2 separate regions of the Homo sapiens genome follow, and region 1 is linked to region 2. The links come from fine-mapping of genetic effects on gene expression. A gene starts in region 2. The other region holds a variant in brackets. All regions are shown on one strand. Distances are between the middles of the regions. Region 1 overlaps RNF14 (ring finger protein 14). Region 2 holds the start of GNPDA1 (glucosamine-6-phosphate deaminase 1).

What was found. PIP is the estimated chance that this variant, and not a neighbour inherited with it, causes the effect. A credible set is the group of variants that fine-mapping cannot tell apart.
Region 1: its variant is the best candidate, but not a certain one, in a credible set for the expression of GNPDA1 in whole blood (INTERVAL, PIP 0.69).

The regions. Positions count from the first base shown.
Region 1 is chr5:141,989,365-141,993,726 of GRCh38, reverse strand. It overlaps RNF14 (ring finger protein 14), which reads right to left. Exons shown (of 9, transcript NM_004290.5): 9 at 3,435-4,362. Among named protein-coding and RNA genes, the nearest start is that of GNPDA1, 21 kb to the left of the region's middle. The variant T/AAT (reference allele first, on the strand shown) is at 2,665.
Region 2 is chr5:142,011,063-142,015,456 of GRCh38, reverse strand. It overlaps GNPDA1 (glucosamine-6-phosphate deaminase 1), which reads left to right and starts at 2,430. Exons shown (of 7, transcript NM_005471.5): 1 at 2,430-2,462; 2 at 3,416-3,545. The coding sequence starts at 3,422. RefSeq lists a cis regulatory region at 891-1,163 and silencers at 2,305-2,574, 3,246-3,305.

The DNA of each region.
Region 1 (4,362 bases), 22 kb after region 2:
TTTTTAGTGTTTTTTTGTTTTTTAAGAGAGACGGAGTCTTACTATGTTGCCCCGACTGGTCTCAAACTCCTGGCTTCAAGTGATCCACTCACCTCAGCCTCTCAAAGCACTGGGATTACAGGAGGGAGCCACTGCGCACGACCCATGGTACTTATCTTCTGATGAACCAGATAATTTACTTAGTGTCTCTTTCCTTCCGCCAGAATTTAAGTTCCACATGGGCAGGGAGATTATGTCTGTTTTATTTACTGCTACATTCTCACCACCTTGAAAAAGAGTAAGGCCCATTGCTGGGTATTCCATCAGTATTTGTTAAATAAGTGAGTTATTCTAGGAAATACTATAGGTTGCAAAAAGTAGAATGGTACTGAGGGTAAGACAATCGCTTTTAAAATTTACATGTATTTATGTTGTATTAGTGTGAGTTTAGCTGCTTTTCCTTTTTTGGTTTGTTTTTATAATGAAGGGAAAAAAGGAGATCCAAGCAAGGAAAAGAAGTGACTGTGTTAACTTTGTACTTAGCAACTTCAGCATCAAATCTCCCTAAGTTTCCAATGTACACAATCTTCTCCAAAGCATCCTCTGGCTCAGAGAAATGTGGGAGTCCTTGGAGTGGTAAATCTTCAGACAACCTGAGAAACTGTACAGTCTAAACGATGGGTGATGAAAGTTGATTATTACCATAAACATTGGCTAAGAATACCCCTAAAGCTCCCATAACCAGATTTCTGACCACACTCAGTCTGGCCTGATTTTTTTAGTTAAGCTAAGGTTTGGGGAGCAGGCTGGCTACTCTTACCAGCATCAGAGGGCACCATGGGGTTACAATTCCTTGGTCCTACTTAGGGGCTTTATATACAACTTAATTTCCCTACTTTGGTGGTTGAAGGTTAAGTGCCACTATCAGGAGTGACACTCTACTATGTAACAATTGCATAAGATGTCAACTGTGGTTCACATACACTTTTGAGTATTTAAAAATTTCTGATAATACTGCTGTTCCTGCCTTGATAGTACTGTTAGATACCATTCTGTCTACTAAAGTATAAAACAGACTATAATGAAATATAATGAGGAAAATTTAAATACCAGAAATTAAATCTACTTCTGTAACAAAACAACATACTCTATACCTGTCTTAACTAGTGACGATATTTTTAGAACATGGGAACTGCTGCCACCTGCTGGTGATGCTTATGGCAAAGTTAATACTAGGTAGGAGGGAGATCCAAACTCCAGTCAAAATTCTGAAATTCCCTTTCAAAGCAGACAGCCACGTGAACAACTTTATTATTATCTCCTCTAATTAACTCTCATTGCTCTTGACAGAAAAAATAAATACAAAGTATATGAAGAGATTACTAATGTAAATTAGAACTGTCTACTACTAAAAAAATGACTTTGGGCAAATGACTTTGGGCTGGGTGCGGTGGCTCACACCTGTAATCCTAGCACTTTGGGAGGCTGAGATGGGTGGATCACTTGAAGTCAGGAGTTCGAAACCAGGCTGGCCAACATGGTGAAACCCCGTCTCTACTAAAAATTAAAAAAAATAAAAAATAAAAAATTAGCTGGGTGTGGTCGTGGGCACCTGTAATCCCAGCTACTTGGGAGGCTGAGGCAGGAGAATCACTTGAACCCGGGAGGCGAAGGTTGCAGTGAGCCGAGATCAAGCCACTGCACTCCAGCCTGGGTGACAGAGCAAGACTCCGTCTCAAAAAAAAAAAAAAAAAAGACTGCTGACTAACACCACAAATCTGTCTGGGAATATGGCTTCTGATACTGAGCCTTTCTTACGTTCACCAGCTCCTCCACAGGTCAACAGGAAGGGATACATCTACTCAACAAACTTCGGGATTTAGCCAAGATGGCAGGCTAATTCTCACACCAGGGCACAGTCTAATGGGTCCAGCTGACTTCCTGACTTGATCAACTTGCCCAGTGTTTAATGATGTTTTTCAAGAAGCCGAGCAGGAAAATTACCAGAACAGGTGAACAGCCTAAAACTGCATACACAGCACTGAAGCATCCTGAGAAGTAACTGATTTAAAGCTACAAAAGACCTCAGTCAAAAAGAAATCACTGATTTGCTGAGCCTGCTAGGATTAGGTAATCTGTCTTCAAAAAGTTTTCTGGCTCCTGCCCAATCCAGATGTACCAAGGTATAATTAATGTTTATATAACAATAAAAACAGATGAGACAACTGTGACAGCTGAGAGGGGTCTAAGGAGACATGATAACTAAATATAATAACGTGGTGTCCTAGAAGGGATCCTGGAACAGAAGAAGGACATTAGGTAAAACTAAGAAAATCTGAATAAAGTATGAACTCTACTTAATAATATCAATACTACTTCATTAATATGACAAATGTGCTGCACTAATATGTTAATAAGGAAAACCAAGTGAGGGGTACATAGGAACGCTGTACAATCTTGGCACTTTTTCTGTCAATCTATATTCTAAAATAAAAAGTTTCTTTTTAAAAAATGGATGGTCTGTTAATAGGGTAGCTAAAAAAATAAAAATTATAATAATAAAAATTTAAACTAAAAGAAAAATGGATGAAACAAGATGCATCTCAACTGACAAAGGCAGGCCCTAAAGTTAGTTCGATCACAAGCTTAAAATGTCACAGAGCTATTTTGATTTAAAAAAAAAAA[T/AAT]TATGGCCAGGCGTGGTGGCTCATGCCTGTAACCCCAGCACTTTCGGAGGCTGAGGCGGGTGGATCACTAGGTCAGGAGTTCGAGACCAGCCTGGCCAACATGGTGAAACCCCATCTCTACTAAAAATACAAAAAAATTAGCTGGGCACGGTGAGCATGCCTGTAGTCCTGGCTACTTGGGAGGCTGAGGCAGGAGAATCACTTGAACCTGAGAGGTGGAGGCTGCGGTGAGCTGAGATTGTGCCACTGCACTCCAGTCTGGGCAACAGAGGGAGATTCCATCTCAAATAAATAAATAAATAAGTTATTTGATAGCTTATTTTCATTTATCAGCTCTAGACCCAAACCTTTTATATAAAAATGAAGAGACACTGACTATTCAAACTCCCCCAAAAACACCCAGGAGGCCAGGCACTGTGGCTCATGCCTGTAAATCCCAACACTTTGGCAGGCTGAGGCAGGAGCATTACTTGAGCTCAGGAGTTCACAACCTGGGCAATATAGCGAGACCTTATTTCTACTAAAAAGAAAAAAAAAAAATTAGCTGGGCATGGTGCTATGTGCCTGCAGTCGCAGCTACTCAGGAGGCTGAGGTGGGAGGATTGCTTGAGACCAGATCTCAAGGCTGCCGTGAGCTATGATCGCACCACTGCACTCCAGCCTGGGTGACAGTGAGACCCTGTCTCAAAAAGAAAAAAGGCCCATGAAATTCATACTAATTTATGGCAAATCTCAACCCACTCATAAAAAAAGGCTTTCATGAAATTAAGGTAGGTACAAAACTCTTTATTCTATCATATATTTTGCTGACACCACAACCTTCCACAAACCCATTTGTTTTACAGGGCATTTGGGGAGTTACCCAAATCTTTCATTTTACTGAGACAAAAGTACTCTACCAAAACTATACATCTTAAAATTAGCTCATAACTCATGCTTCAAAAGTATAACTTTATAAGCCCTATTTTCTTTGTTAAAATTGAGTGATGAAGACTTTGTACCTAAGAATCACTAAGGTGACCAAACAAATTTTTGAGACTAAACACCAAATACCTGTGTTGTTTTTAATATCATAAATGGGAAAAAAGGCTCCCATTTCTTTCATAAAACTGTATTATAAAGGCTTCTTTCCTACTTCTATGACATCATCAACAATGTATAACAGCTTAACATAAAATGATCTCTAGAAAATATCAAGTAGCTCACGAACTATAGAGCTTCTGAGTAGCTCTTTCTGAATAAATCTGAATTGAACTCTTTGATCACAGAAATCACTCTTCTCAGGTATATACTGTAGAACAAATCATTTTAATTTCCATTTCTTATCTTTAATTTATTCTTTAACCTCAATTTTTTTTTTTTTTTTTTTTGAGAAGGAGTCTCGCTCTGTCGCTCAGGCTGGAGTGCAGTGGCGCTATCTCGGCTCACTGCAAGCTCCACCTCCCAGGTTCATGCCATTCTCCTGCCTCAGCCTCCTGAGTAGCTGGGACTACAGGCGCCTGCCACCATGCCCAGCTAATTTTTTGTATTTTTAGTAGAGACGGGGTTTCACCGTGTTAGCCATGATGGTCTCGAACTCCTGACCTCGTGATCCGCCCGCCTAGGCCTCCCAAAGTGCTGGGATTACAGGCGTGAGCCACTGTGCCCAGCAAATTAACCTCAATTTTTACACAAAATGTCCTGAATGGAAGACCATGA
Region 2 (4,394 bases):
GAGCATTTCAGTATGGTTAGAGAGTGGGCTGTAAGGAGGGTTAGGAGGAAATAAGGGGTAAGTAATAACAGCTGGCTGTGAATGCCATGCTATGCTAATATTTCATTTAATAGTCACAACAGCCACACGAGGGCAGTATTACTTAATTTCCACTCAATTCTTATGTTTCAGGTAAGAAAACTGAGACCTGGAGAAGTTGAGTCATTTGCTTGAATTACTCACTAAATAACCAGAAATTAGCCAGACCAGAATTGAAATGCAGGTCTTTCCGATTAGTCCCCACGCTGATCCAAGAGCCTCCAGGCTTCGCAGAGACCCTGCACTGGTTCCCTGCAGAAGGGGTAACTCAGGGGAAATGGGCTTAGTCACCAGAAGTCAGTCACTCTCCTCCTGGAAAGGTCTGGATGCAGATGCTGCAGACCTGGCCCATGTTATCAGACGTGATCGGAGATTGGAGTTGGAGCTTCATTGTGAAACATCTGCAGTCCTCAAGCTGAGACAACATTTCTGGCTGGGGGCGGTGGCTCATGCCTGTAATCCCAGCACTTTAGGAGGCCAAGGCGGGCAGATCACCTGAGGTCAGGAGTTCACGACTAGCCTGGCCAGCATGGTGAAACCCCATCTCTATTAAAAGTACAAAAATTAGCTGGGCATGGTGGTGGGCATCTGTAATCCCAGCTACCCGGGAGGCTGAGGCAGGAGAACTGCTTGAACCCGGGAGGCGGAGGTTGCAGTGAGCAGAGATCACACCACTGTACTCCAGCCTGGGCAACAGAGCGAGACTCCATCTCAAAAAAAAAAAAAAAAAGATTTCTGACTGAATTTAAAAATAAACAAAAACTACACCAACACCGAGCCATTCACAGCCTCTCAGGATTTGGAAAACAAAACAAAACAAAACAAAATAACACTGAGGCAAAGAGCAAGTCCCCCACACTGTAAAGGTATCAGCTCCACCATCTGGTCTCATCAGGGCCTCACCAGATGAAGCCTACCCCTAGCAAGCTGGTCTGGAGCTGCAGTTGGGCCCAAGGGCTGGGTGAGCGCCTGGGGCTGTCCACAGTGAGCAGATTCAGCAGAATTGCAGAACGTGGCCACCCGGCTGACTGAGGAAGGCCCTGTCCCGTGGGCATAAAGCCAGGATTCCTTTGGCCTTTTGCTGCTGGAGGAAAACTAGGCTGATTCAGAAGGTCTCACCACTGCTCCCTAGCACTGACTAAAGTCCGGGATGTCAGACTATGAGGTCATATATCACAAGTCTCTGTACGCCTTTGATCCCCAGTTTCCACATCAATAAAATGGCGGTAATCATATCTGACGATTGGGCGGGATTCTATGAAATAATGCGCACAAAGCTCTGGCAAAACCCTATGTAATGGAAGATGTTACTGATGACCAGCACTCAAGTCCTTCCTCCAGCCTCCGCATGGAAAGTTCCCAAGTGTCCCTAGAAGTCTGGAACACTCTAATGTTGACTGGAAAGAATAAGATGGATCTCTTTTTCTGATATGGAAGCGTCCCAAATCCAGTCATACCAGCTGGGAGGCAGTGCCCGCTAGCGGTAAAAAGCATGGATTTTGGATTTGGACAGATCCCCCTGAATTGAAGGCACAAGGGAAACCACTTGTGCCTCTGGCCAAGTTAATTTTTCTCTCCAAGCGTCAGTTTCTCCACCTGTTAAAAAGTAACGGCAAACCTACCTCACTGGAGCTTAATAAGGATTAAGTGAAATAATGCAGGTCAAATATCCGAGCCTTGATATATATAAGCCTCATGTGTATGTGTTCCCATTTATGTAAAATAACAGTGTAAGCATATTCAAAGAAAGCAATTCAGAATGTACTCTTAAACTAAGCAATGGTTATCTTGGTGTGGGGAGTTGGGGAAACCAGGGGCCTGCCTTTTTCTCTATTATATAATGCTGCAAAGTTTGATCTTTAAAAAAGGACATTAAAAAGCCCAATTGTACTTTAAACAACACAAGTTTTAATACTTGGGTAAATAAATGGCATCTAAACAAAGAAAGAAACTGAAGGCAGAGCCAGGCCCAACCCTAGGAGACTGAGGAAGCGATTCTGCTTTGCCTGCCCCCAGCTCAACCCCTGCACTAAAACCCCCCGGCCCCAGCCCCAAGGTCCAGGGGGTTGTATTCCTGGGGGCGACCCGGCGCCCCTCAAGTCTCCCTCCTCTTGCACACACACACACACAAACCAGACTCGAATCCCCGCCTCCCAAGGGAAAGTGTTTTTTAAGGTCTGTTCCAGGGCCTGCCGGGGCCAGGGACCGAGGTGGGACTGAGTGGCCGGAACTCCTCCACCTGGGAGAGTCGGTCCGGGTAGCTGCGGCCAAGCTGAGTCAGCCCGGCGGGCGGCGCACGCGGCGCCGCGTGACCCGCAGCCACGTGACCCGCGCGGGGCCGGGCCGCCGGCGCAGTCGCTGCAGCCGCCGCGGGAGGCGTCCGTGTAAGTGGGTAGCAGGGCTGGCGGGGACCTTCCTCGCGGGCCGGAGCGCGGAGCGCTGCCCCAGCCCTACGGCACTCGGGGTCGGGACCCCGGGGAGCCGCCCTCACACATTTTCCAGGAGGGATCGGAGGGGCGATGGGGTGGTAATGGGGGTGGGGGACACGCTGTACCCCACCGACGACCGCGCGGGCCACCTTCGCCTCTTTCCTTCACACTCCCACTAACCGCAGTGCTGGGGGAACAAAATGTCCTCCTTCTGGAGCGATTACCTTTTCCCTTTTGTGCTTTGGGGGAAACTGAAGACCCAGAGGGGTTCGCAAAGCAAGGTGGGCCAGTAGGAAGACCCCTCCGCTAGTCCAGAGAGAGCACACAGCTCCCCAGGCAGAGCTCATTGCCCCACCTGCTCTAGTGGCCCAGCATGATCCCATGACCTCTCTACTTCTGGAGGAAGAGTCTTGGGGTAGACGGCGGGGAGGGGGTAGGGTATCCCGTTCCGGTAGGGGCAGGGATGAGGGAGGCGGGGCTGAGCCGAGCATCTATCTGGATGGTAACAGCCAACGTAGAAAATACTAAGTTGTTTACATGCATTCTCTCATTTCATATTACCCGTCGTGAAGTCTGTGAAGTAGGTACTATTGTCCCAATTTTTACATAGGAGGAAACGGCTCAGAGAGAACTTAGGTCCTTTGACCGAGGTCCTGCAGGTGGTAAGTGAAGGAGCTGAGATTAGAACCCAGATCTGCCCCCAGTGGCGCCTCCTCGTGGTCTGTGGGTGGTGGAGACGACTGGCCTAGCCTCTTAGCTCCTCTGTGAATAGAAAGGCCTTTTTCCTGGCTCAGACAGCTTGGGAAGGGGATTGTTGCTGGGTAAGAGAAGCTTCTCCCACCACCTCCATCTCTTTCTCTGCCCCTTACCATTGATTCCTTTCTGTCATCCCCTCTCCCCCACTGCAGGACAAGATGAAGCTCATCATCCTGGAGCACTATTCTCAGGCGAGCGAGTGGGCGGCTAAATACATCAGGAACCGCATCATCCAGTTTAACCCAGGGCCAGAGAAGTACTTCACCCTGGGGCTCCCCACTGGTGCGTTCTTGGATGGAGAGGGTGCCGTGGATAAGGGTGGAGAGAGTAGGCAACAGGGGCCAGGTACACCGGCTCACTCAGCCAAGGGACTTCACGGGGGCTCTGGGGTACTGGTGCTGAGAGAGCACCTTCCTGCCCCTTCCACATACAAAGGACCCAGCTTCCCTTATGGGTTGGTTTAGTCGCTGCCTGTCCCTGCAGAATCCTGGAGCAGAAGGGATCTTGGTTGGCAGGAAGAATTTGATTTTTAGGCTACATCCTAAGTCAGCCCTGTCCACCAGGGTTTCTTAACAGAATTAAGTCCTGATACCCTAAGGCATTCATTTTATGTAATGAATTAATTTCTCTTCTCTGCATCTAGAGGGGTACCAGCTAAGTACCATCCTTGGGAGAATTGAAAAGATAGTCACTTAGGTAATTTTCTGTAAGGCTTAATTAAACACAGGACCTAAATAAAAAACAGTTCTAATTTCTTTTGGAAAAAATCAAAATGTTGCTTTTTCAGAAAGATATTTTGACCCCAGCTCCTCAAGACAAATGTCCTGATTATTTCTTTCAGAGATGGATGGGTTTGCCCTAGTGGCCCTACCTGACCCATCCATTAGCGTGTCTATGTGTGTGTGTGTGTGTTGGAGGGGTCTTCAAACTTGTTCTTTTTCCTTTTTTTTTTTTTTTTTGGTCTTCCTTGCAGTCCAGACTTTTTCTGTAAATGGCCAGTAGTAAATATGTTAGACTTCACTAGCCATATAGTCTCTGTTGCAACAACTTAACCCTTCTGTTGTTTGAAAGCAGCTATAATTAGCCTGGCATGGTGGCGCTCACCTGTAGTCCCAGCTTCTTGGGAGGCTG